2 separate regions of the Homo sapiens genome follow, and region 1 is linked to region 2. A link means that fine-mapping ties the variant in region 2 to the expression of a gene that starts in the linked region. Tissue or cell type: minor salivary gland. Region 2 holds a variant in brackets; the other region holds the start of a gene. All regions are shown on one strand. Distances are from middle to middle.

Evidence for each region. PIP is the estimated chance that this variant, and not a neighbour inherited with it, causes the effect.
Region 1: ZMYM4-AS1 starts here. The variant in region 2 is fine-mapped to the expression of ZMYM4-AS1 in minor salivary gland (GTEx, PIP 0.95).

Annotation. Positions count from the first base shown.
Region 1 is chr1:35,363,524-35,368,672 of GRCh38, reverse strand. It overlaps ZMYM4-AS1 (ZMYM4 antisense RNA 1), which reads left to right and starts at 2,596. Exons shown (of 2, transcript NR_046659.1): 1 at 2,596-2,707. The region is part of intron 5 of ZMYM4 (zinc finger MYM-type containing 4); the gene reads right to left.
Region 2 is chr1:35,137,861-35,143,009 of GRCh38, reverse strand. LOC105378644 (a long non-coding RNA gene) reads left to right here. Exons shown (of 3, transcript XR_947180.3): 3 at 1-1,541. Among named protein-coding and RNA genes, the nearest start is that of SFPQ, 53 kb to the left of the region's middle. The variant A/G (reference allele first, on the strand shown) is at 2,548.

The DNA.
Region 1 (5,149 bases), 230 kb before region 2:
TACTAGGTAAAAAGGTACATAGTAAAGGTTCTTGATACATAATGACAGGTTGTTTTCCTCCCCAAAAAATGTTCTTAATTATATTTACTCCAGTAATTTATGAAAAAAACACCATTTAAAAGTATTTTCCCACTTTGTTTCAATTTGCAGCTATTTTTAATGTTCATTTACAAAAAGTACATTATAATGGAACACTATTAACTCTCAGTAGCATTTGTTATCAACATTTCCTCAATATGTACGTTAAGTTAAAATTTTATATATTTGTTTCCATTTTTGTGCCAAAAAAATCTGACAGTCTTTACCTTTGTGATTTCTTCTATCTCTTACAAAGTTTTATTTCCACATTAAAAGAATAAGAAAATAGTTTCATTTTTATAATAATACATTCATTTACTCCAGGGATCAGCAAACTTTATCTGTAAGGGACCAGATAGCAAATATTTTTGACTTTGCAGGCCATATGGTCTCTGTCCCAACTACTCAACTCTGCTCTGGTGGAGCAAAAGCACCCACATAATATGTAAATGAATGAATGTGGCAATGTTCAAATAAAACTTTATTTATGAAAGCAGTGGGTGGAAAAACAAAAAAAATGGGTGGGGGGGGGGCGCTGGATTTGGCCCACCACTGATAATTTGCCAACCCCTGCCTTAGTCCATTTGGAATTTACTCATTTTGATGTATAATGAACATTTTTCTTTTTTGAGACAGAGTTTCACTCTGTCACCCAGGCTAGCTCAACCTCGGCTCACTGCAACCTCTGCCTCCTGCGTTCAAGTGATTCTCCTGCCTCAGCCTCCCCAGTAGCTGAGATTACAGGTGCCTGCCACCACACCCGGCTAATTTTTGTATTTTTAGTAGAGATGGGGTTTCAACATGTTGGCCAGGCTGGTCTTGAACTCCTGACCTCAAGTATCTACCCGCCTCAACCTCCCAAAGTGCTGGGATTACAGGCATAAGCCACCATGCCCACCTCTTTATCTTTCTCTAAATAGTGAATTCCTTTCATTTGCCATTGATAAATATATCAAATTCTTAAAAAATAATGTCTGTTTTTGGGCTATCTCTTCTATATCATTTTCAGTCTGACTAATCTTATGATATCATGCTATCCTAACGAAACTAATTGTAGGATACTTATGGCCAGACGTGGTGGCTCACACCTGTAATCCAATCACCTTGGGAGGCCGAGGTGGGTGGATCACCTGAGGTTAGGAGTCTGAGACCAGCCTGGCCAACATGGTGAAACCCTGTCTCTACTAAAATTACAGAAATCAGCGGGGTGTGGTGGTGCACGCCTGTAATCCCAGCTACTCAGGAGGCTGAGGCAGGAGAATCGCTTGAACCCAGGGTGGTGGGAGGGCAGAGGTTGCAGCGAGCCAATATTGCACCATTGCACTCCAGCCTGAGCAACAAGAGTGAAACTCTGTCTTTTAAAAAAAAAAAAAATTAATTAATTGTATGATGTTCAACCATTTAACAGCATTTGCCACATTCAACCTCTCCATCCATTTTTTAGAATATATGTGTAATAAGTGTGTGTATGTGCATGCCTATTATTCTTCTACAAAACTTCATAACCTAACCATTGATATTTTCATCAGAATTGCATCAAATCTAAATCTCAATTTTTTTTTTTTTTTTTGAGATGGAGTTTCACTCTTATCCCACAAGCTGGGGCACGATGGTGCGATCTTGGCTCACTGCAACCTCCACCTCCCAGGCTCGAGTGATCCTCCTGTCTCAGTCTCCCGAGTAGCTGTGATTACAGGCATGCACCACCACGCCCGGCTAATTTCTGTAATTTTTGTATTTTTTAGTAGAGACAGGGTTTCACCATGTTGGCCAGGCTGGTCTTGAACTCCTGACCTCAAGTGATTCGCCCCCCGCTTGGCCTCCCAAAGTGTTAGGATTACAGGCGTGAGCCACCGCACCTGGCCTTAAATCTTAATTTAAAAATAACTGACATCTACATATTTCTTACATTTAAAAAGATGGTCTCTTCATTATTTCAAGTTGTATTTGATATAAGTACTTTTTAGTTGCTGCTGGGAATAGTGTATCTTTTTCATTATATCATCTAACTGGGAAGTTTATTTATAGAAGTATTGGTATAATTCAACTAGGTACTCCACTAAATTTTCATGAATTCTATTAATTCTTTCATAAATATTCTTAATAGCAAGTGATAATTTTATTTCCCTTTTTCCATTATTTTTTCTTCTAATTTCTTTAACATGGATTGAAGTAAAAATCCAACAAGAGTTAAATAATAACGATGACATCCGCAACTTGTATTCTTTTAGTAATATTAACAGAAGATTTCCATCATTTTACTTCAACTTCAATAACTGTTACTGATCTGAAGTAGTAGTTCCTTACTATGATCAAGAAAAAATCTATTCTAAGAAATGTCTGAATTACATGAGATGTCTTTTGGCATCTAATAAAGTGACTATTACAGATACCCTTATTTGACCTGCTGATGAAATATATGTATTAAAAGATTTTCTAACATCGACTAATCATGACATTCCTTCATTATATAGTGTATTAAAGAAAATTTCCTTAAATATTTTTATTTTAATCTCAGAAAACTCCAGAAACAACCAATACTCATTGGCATACATTAACGGTCTGCAGTCAGCTCTCTTAGTCTCTGTGATGGCTATTGCAAACTTCTGCTGGATTCCTTTAGCCTTGAGTACGTATTATTTATGTAATATAGTAAAATAGTATACATCTTAAGTACTGTTTGTATGGTCCACAATGCCTTCAAGGCACAATCATGTTTGGTTTATGTTTGGATCCTCCCATGATCACTAATTTTACAAGTATTTGATAAACAAATCAATGAGTAGCCAAATACTAATAAATATTTTCTGAGAAGTAAATATCTAATTGGTAACCCAAAAGCTTTCAGAAGCAGAAAAACACATGCCAAAACACAAAAAAATTCCTTTACCAATACCTTTACCTTCTTAGTTTACTACAAATGAAGATCAATATTAATATCCCATGAAAGTATTTTAGAAATGAATAACACAGTTTCTATTGCCAAATTAACTCAATATGGCTAAAAGAGCCCCAACATTTGAATTACTACATTTTCTTTCCAAAACTGTGTGAATGACTATTATGACAATTAGTTCATTTGCTTTCCCATTTTAATTGAGTTCTTTCAATGAGAGACTACACATTAGCTCGTCCTCTATTATTATGAACAAGAAGAAAAAGAAATCATGACTTTAATGTAGTATTTACTGAATGTACAGTTTTTAGACCCTATGGAAAAGGCAAAAGAGGAAAATGAGGTCTCTGGCTCTCTTTAAAGTATCTATTTTGAAACCTTCCCTTGGTATTTTTAAAATTAAACAACTTTTATTTACAGAAAGATTGGTAGACTAAAAAAAAAAAAAAAAAAAAAAAAGACTTTGATTATGACCCCAGATTGGCTCCTTCCTGGCCATGAGGGCTTGAGTAACTAAATCTCTATATCTCTCAGCTCTCTCACCTATAAATGTTAACATCCTCTACTCTGGCCATCTTATACAGGGTTGTTAGGCGAATTAAGCAACACAGTACGTGTAAAAGCATCTGTAACTGTAAAAATACTACAGAAAACATTATAGAAACATGCAATAGAATTAGAATGAAGAAATGAAACTGTGAGACCCAATGACATTATGCCAGTAATAGAGGCAGGAGGACGGACAATGACTGGCAAATCCAGAATATCATAACTGAAGAAATAACCAAGAGCAAATGGGTAGAGGAAGTTAAATACATACACACACATTTCAGCACCTTGTTTATATAGTAAAGTAAAGAAATTAGGACCAAAATGAATTGTGTAAAAAAGAGAATTAGGAAGTGAGCTAAAAGCAAAACTACCTAAATTAAGCACAAAGAAAAGCCAAAGGAAGTTTTGAAAAGGTGCCATAAACTAAAGCTATGATTTTATTGAACCATGAAAGAAGTTACTGGTAACTGATGGTCAAAAGTAAACACTGACCACAACTGTAAAATCTATCAGTATTTTATGAGAGGCTAATAGTACTTTTTTGAGACTAATAATATAATACACTAGAGTTCTCTTTTCCAGTCCATGGGAAATGAATAAAAGTAATAAATTATGCAATTTTGAAAGGCAATACTCTTCTAAAAGAAGGAGGGAAGGTGGAGACGGGTGTGGAAAAGACAAGAAAAAGAAAAGAAGGAAAGAATCACATATCTAGTTTATAACATGAGAGCTGCTCTGGGGGATTTCTAGAAGAATTATCAAAGGTCTGATCCTATAGGACTGGTATTGCTGACAACAAAAAGGACTCCTCAGGGAAAACCTAGCTCTATCCACTCACATACTACAAGTCCCTTATTGTGGGGTCAGGGTAAAGAATGCTTTTGGATCTTATGCCCAGGACCTACTCACATTACTGCTTAATTCTCAAGTCCAATCAATCAGGGAGTAAGCCTTTGGGGAAGTTCTTCCCATAATCATGATGAAACTTCATATTCATATTCAGTATTTGATAACACATTTTATAATTCTGAATAAGTATATAAAAATTTAAGTGTTTCTATCTGTTCCATCCTATTTATATTCTCCAGCCACTGGAACCTCTGATTGTTCTGAAAACAACAATACTAATAACCTTCTCAGTGTTCTCTACCCCTATTGTATTTGGTTTATGCTCTAAGTGCCTTTTTGTCCCAAGGAAGTGTCACATGGTTCAAGTACAAAAGAAAGAGATGATTTTGGTACCCTGCCAGCATGCCCACATTGGGGCAGGAGAAGAGATACAAGATCTGCCCTTCATATAGACATGGCTGTAGTCTTCTGAAGCATATACTGCCACATGAACTTTCCCCAGGTGTTGGGACATCTATTTATCCCTAATTCAGATATCTAAGATCTCCATTACCTGCTTCTATAAACATGCTTTTATTTACCTTCTATTTAAATAGAACAGAAAAATCTATTTATATTCCTTCTACTTTCTTCTTTGTAGCAAGTATACTCATATCCATCCAACTCCTATAGCTTTATCACTACCCTAACACATCCAACTTCCACTGAACGTCATGGAATTCATGCTAACTGAGCATCAATTTGACTCAGTGACTCACATGAATCACCAACCTC
Region 2 (5,149 bases):
ATCACAGTCAGCTAACACTGGCAGCTCAGGACAAGTGGACCAGCCAGCAGGATGCAGATCACCCAACCTGGCTGATCCTGAGACGAGACCAAGCTGCTGCTGAGGACGACAGCCCTGCTCTGGTCACTCCGGAGGCTGACCAGTCTACGCACGGCCGAAGCTTGAGGACTCATCGAGCAAGTAAATGTAGTTAAAAATCTTAAGACTAATAGTTTTCCTGTAATACTAACTGTTTTCCTATTGTTCGGTCGCTGTATTCAACCTTTTTCCCAGGTAAGGACCTCTTTTGTCCTTGCTGGATACGAATATGCTGTACATTGTTTTGTTGTTGTTAACCCCCATAACCATGTTAGAAGAAACACCTATATAAGGTGTCCCCACTGTACACATACTACTTAGGAAACCCAGACCTGTCCAGCCCAGTAACAATTCTGAGTCTTTCAGTCATTCTTTAAACATATAAACCAGAAGTTACCAGAACCTCCTCCTTTAGCAAAAACAGAAAAAACCTATTTGCTCAGCTGGCTGAAAACATTGCTAGCTGCCTAGATGTTTCTTCATGTTATGTTTATAAAAAGGCTAACATAAGAGACCAATGGCCTTGAGAAGCAAAAGAGTTAATGCCTCAAGATAACTTTAACTAGCTCTTTCCCCAAACAGATGCCACAAGTTCAAGCATCTGGCTCTTAAAACTTCTATTATTAAAAAATACCATGTTACTCACTAGGAAAAAGCTTTTAAGACACAGTAAAAAGAACTAACCTGCTTAAGGCATGACAAAGTTGGTACATGTGCATATACAGGTTTAACACAGGTCTGATCCTAGGTGTTCATTTAGAACATAGTTTCCAGCTGTAAGAAAATTTAAAACCCTCATTGTAAGTGTATTACTAGTAATAGGAACTTGCTTGCTGCTCCCCTGTATATTATATTTGCTCCTTCAAATGATAAAAGGTTTTGTAGCTACCATGGTTCAGCAGAAAACTTCAACACAAGTATATTACATAAAATACTATCACTCTGTCTCACAAAAAGACTCAAAAAGTAAAAATAAAAGAACTCCCACTGATTAGTGAAAATTCTCAAAGGGGGAGATAAGGAAGGAGACCACTACTACTCCTGCTGCCCTCCTCTCCCCACCTTGCCTAGTTCGCAAGACAGGAGGAGAGAAAAACAAAAAGTTGGAAAAAAAACAAAAGTAAGATAAACAGCCAGACAACCTTGGCACCACCACCCGGCCTTAGGAGTTAAAAAAAGTAATAATGATAACCTCAACCCCTGACCTAAACTACTTGTGTTGTCTGTAAATTTCAGACACTGTATGAAAAAAAGCATTGTAAAACTTTTTGTTCTGTTAGCTGATGCATATAGCCCCCAGTCATGTTTCCCATGCTTGCTTGATGTACCACGACCCTTACACGTGGACCCCTTAAAGTTGTAAACCTTTAAAAAGGCCAAGAATTTCTTTTTCGGGGAGCTCGGCTCTTAAGACACGAGTCTGACAATGCTCCTGGCCGAATAAAAACCTCTTCCTTCTTTAATTCAGTGTCTGAGGAGTTTTGTCTGTGGCTCGTCCTGCTACAATAAAAGGTTAAAAAGAGTCTATAAAATCTTACCTTATGGTCAAACATTAAAAATTAGATAAATATGTCTACAAGGTTTTATTAAAATTAAGTTTAACATTAATAACACACTAATATAAAAATAAAATTTAGCTTATCTGGTATAAAAATCACACGAGAAGCACTGTTAAGTGTAAAATGGTATTTGGCTTTCTTTGGTTTAAAAAGTAATAAACATTTTTCTCAGTAAAAAGGCACTAAGGAATATAAAGTCCACTGCCAAGGTCCCCACATTTAAAACAAAGGTCAATTTCTTTCTTTTTTTTTTTTTTTTTTTTGAGACAGAGTTTCACTCTTGTTGCCCAGGCTGGAGTGCAATGGCGCAATCTTGGCTTACGGCAACCTCCGCCTCCCGGGTTCAAGCAATTCTCCTGCCTCAGCCTCCTGAGTAGCTGAGATTACAGACATGCACCACTATGCCCAGCTAACTTTGTATGTTTAGTAGAGATGGGGTTTCTCCATGTTGGTCAGGCTGGTCTCGAACTCCTGACCTCAGGTGATCTGCCCACCTCAGCCTCCCAAAGTGCTGGGATTACAGGCGTGAGCCACTGCGCCCGGCCCCAAAAGGTCAATTTCTTAAAAATTATATACTTCATTTATCTTCCACTTTCCTTTCTCTCAAAAACTAAAAGTCTTTTAGCACATGTACCACTCCTAGAATTTCCGGTAAACCAGCACCAGCCTGAAGATCACATTCTCATCAAAGGGTGGAAAGAAGAAAAACTCGAGCCAGCCTGGGAAGGACCCTACCTTGTGCTGCTAGCCACTGAGACTGCTGTTTGTACAGCCAAAAAAAAAAAAAAAAAAAGAATGGACTCATCACACCCGAGTCAAGAAAACACCATCACTTCCAGAGTCGTGGGCCATAGTCCCAGGGGAAAACCCTACCAAACTAAAGCTAAGCAAAATTTAACTCTTTTCATCT[A/G]TTCTATTACTCTTTCTTCTTTCCTCATTCTATTGCTGACCATCTAGTTATTAACATAACCAAGTCAATTTCACCTCAAACTATTGCATTTAATGCTTGCCTTGTTATAACCTGTGAGGACTTGCCAAGTCAAAGACAGCTTTCTACTTCAGAAAGGTACTTCTGTCTCTCCTGCCTCTCCTCAGACTGGGCATTAGTAAACTAGGACCATTTAATCCGAGGAGATTTCGATAAAGACCCCAGTGCCAACCAGGAGTCTTGCCCCCCGATGTAGAGCTTTCATGCCATAGTTGGTCCAACATTCTGTGGACCACTAAAGGGCAAGGATGGACTGCCCCAACCGGTTTTTGTAATTTCCTAAAACCATACATTCATTTTACTAGAGGATCATAGAAGTTAAAGACTTAAACTTTAGCAATTAAGACAGGATACCAAGATGCAAATGCCTGGTTAAAATAGATCCAATATTCCATCTGCATGTTAAACAAAAACAATTGTTTTGCTTGTGCACATGGCAGGCCAGAGGCCCAGATTGTCCCCTTTCCACTAAGGTGGTCTTCCAGTTGACCAGGTGTGGGCTACATGGTAGCTCTTTCCAGGATTCTACAGCCTGGAGTAATAAGTCGTGCCAAGCTCTCTCTGCTATATACCAAAGTCCGGCACCCTGTGGGTCAGCCCCTGAGGGCCATCCAGCCTCCGTCTCCCAACACTAAGTTCACTTTGTGTCTCTCACGACAGGGAGGAAATTTAGCATTCCTTGGAGACCTGAAGGGATGCAGTGAGCTTAAGAATTTTCAAGAAATTATCAATCAGTCAGCCCTTGTTCATCCCCAAGCGGATGTGTGGTGGTATTGTGGTGGACCTTTACTGGGCACTCTGCCAAATAACTGGAGTGGCACTTGTACTTTAGTCCAATTGGCTATCCCTTTCACCCTGGCATTACATCAACCAGAAGGAAAAAAATAAAGCATCGTAAAGCGAGAGAAGCCCCTTATGGGTCTTTCGACTCTCACATCTATTTAGATGCAATTGGAGTCCCATGAGGAATACCAGATCAATTTAAAGCTTGAAATCAAATAGCTGCAAGATTTGAGTCAACATTTTGGTAGGTGACAGTCAATAAAAATGTAGATTAGATAAACTACATCTATTACAACCAACAGCAACGAGATTTTCATGAGTTAAAAAAAAAACTCACGTCGGCCCCAGCCCTGAGGCTACCTGACCTGACAAAACTCTTTACACTCTATATGTCAGAAAAAGAAAAAATGGCAGTTTTAACTCAGACTGTGGGGCACTGGCCAAGGCCAGTGGCCTATCTCTCAAAACAACCAGACAAGGTTTCCAAAGGCTGGCCCCCAGGTCTAAGGGCCCTAGCAGCAGTGACCCTGTTAGCACAAAGCACAAGAAGCAGATAAACTAACCATTAGGCAAAACCTGAATATAAATGTCCCCCATGCTGTGGTAACTTTAATGACTACCAAAGGACATCATTGGTTAACAAATGCTAGATTAACAAGTACCAAAGCTTGCTATGTGAAAATCCCCACATAACCATTGAAGTTTGCAACACCCTAAACCCCACCACCTTGCTCCCGGTATCAGAGAGCCCAGTTGAACATAACTGTGTAGAGGTGTTGGACTCAGTTTATTCTAGCAGGCCCAACCTCCGAGACCATCCTTAAACATCAGTAGACTGTGAGTGGTACATGGACAGGAGCAGCTTCGCCAACCCCTGCAAAGTGACTCTGAAGAAGACAACAAGCCCTGCTCCAGTCACACCCGGACGCACGACCGAAGCATGAGAAAACTCATCACGGGACTCATTTTCCTTAAAATTTGAACTTTTACAGTAAGGACTTCAACTGACCTTCCTCAGACTGAGGACTGTTCCCAGTGTATACATCAAGTCACTGAGGTAGGACAAAAGGTTGCTATGGTCCTATGATATTATGGTTATTATAAGTGTACTGGAACTCTGAAAAGAACTTGTTTGTATAATGTTATTCTATACAAGGCATGTAGCCCAGGAAATGACCAACCTGATGGATGTTATGACCCATCTGAGCCTCCCATGACCACAGTTTTAAAAATAAGATTAAAGACTGAGGACTGGTGGGGGCTCAAAAACGATATGAATAAAGTGTTAGGCAAAACAGAAGAAAAAGGGGTGCCCAAACAAATCACCTTAAAATTTGATGCCTGTGCTGTCATTAATAGTAATAAGTTAGGAATAAGTTGTGGTTCTCCTAATTAGAAAAGAGGCTATATGGCAGAAAATAAGTACATCTGTCATAAATTAGGACTGTGTGGAAATAAATGTAAATACTGGTTTTGTGTCATTTAGGCCACTTAGATTAAAAAAAAAAATGAAAAGGATCCAGTCCACCTTCAGAAAGGAAAAAAAGGCCCTTCCTGTACTAAGGAACAATGTAACTGTCAGGCCTCTGAGCCCAAGCTAAGCCATCATATCCCTTGTGACCTGCACATACACATCCAGATAGCCGGTTCCTGCCTTAAATGATGACATCCCACCACAAAAGAAATGAAAATAGCCTGTTCCTACCTTAACTGATGACATTATCTTGTGAAATTCCTTCTC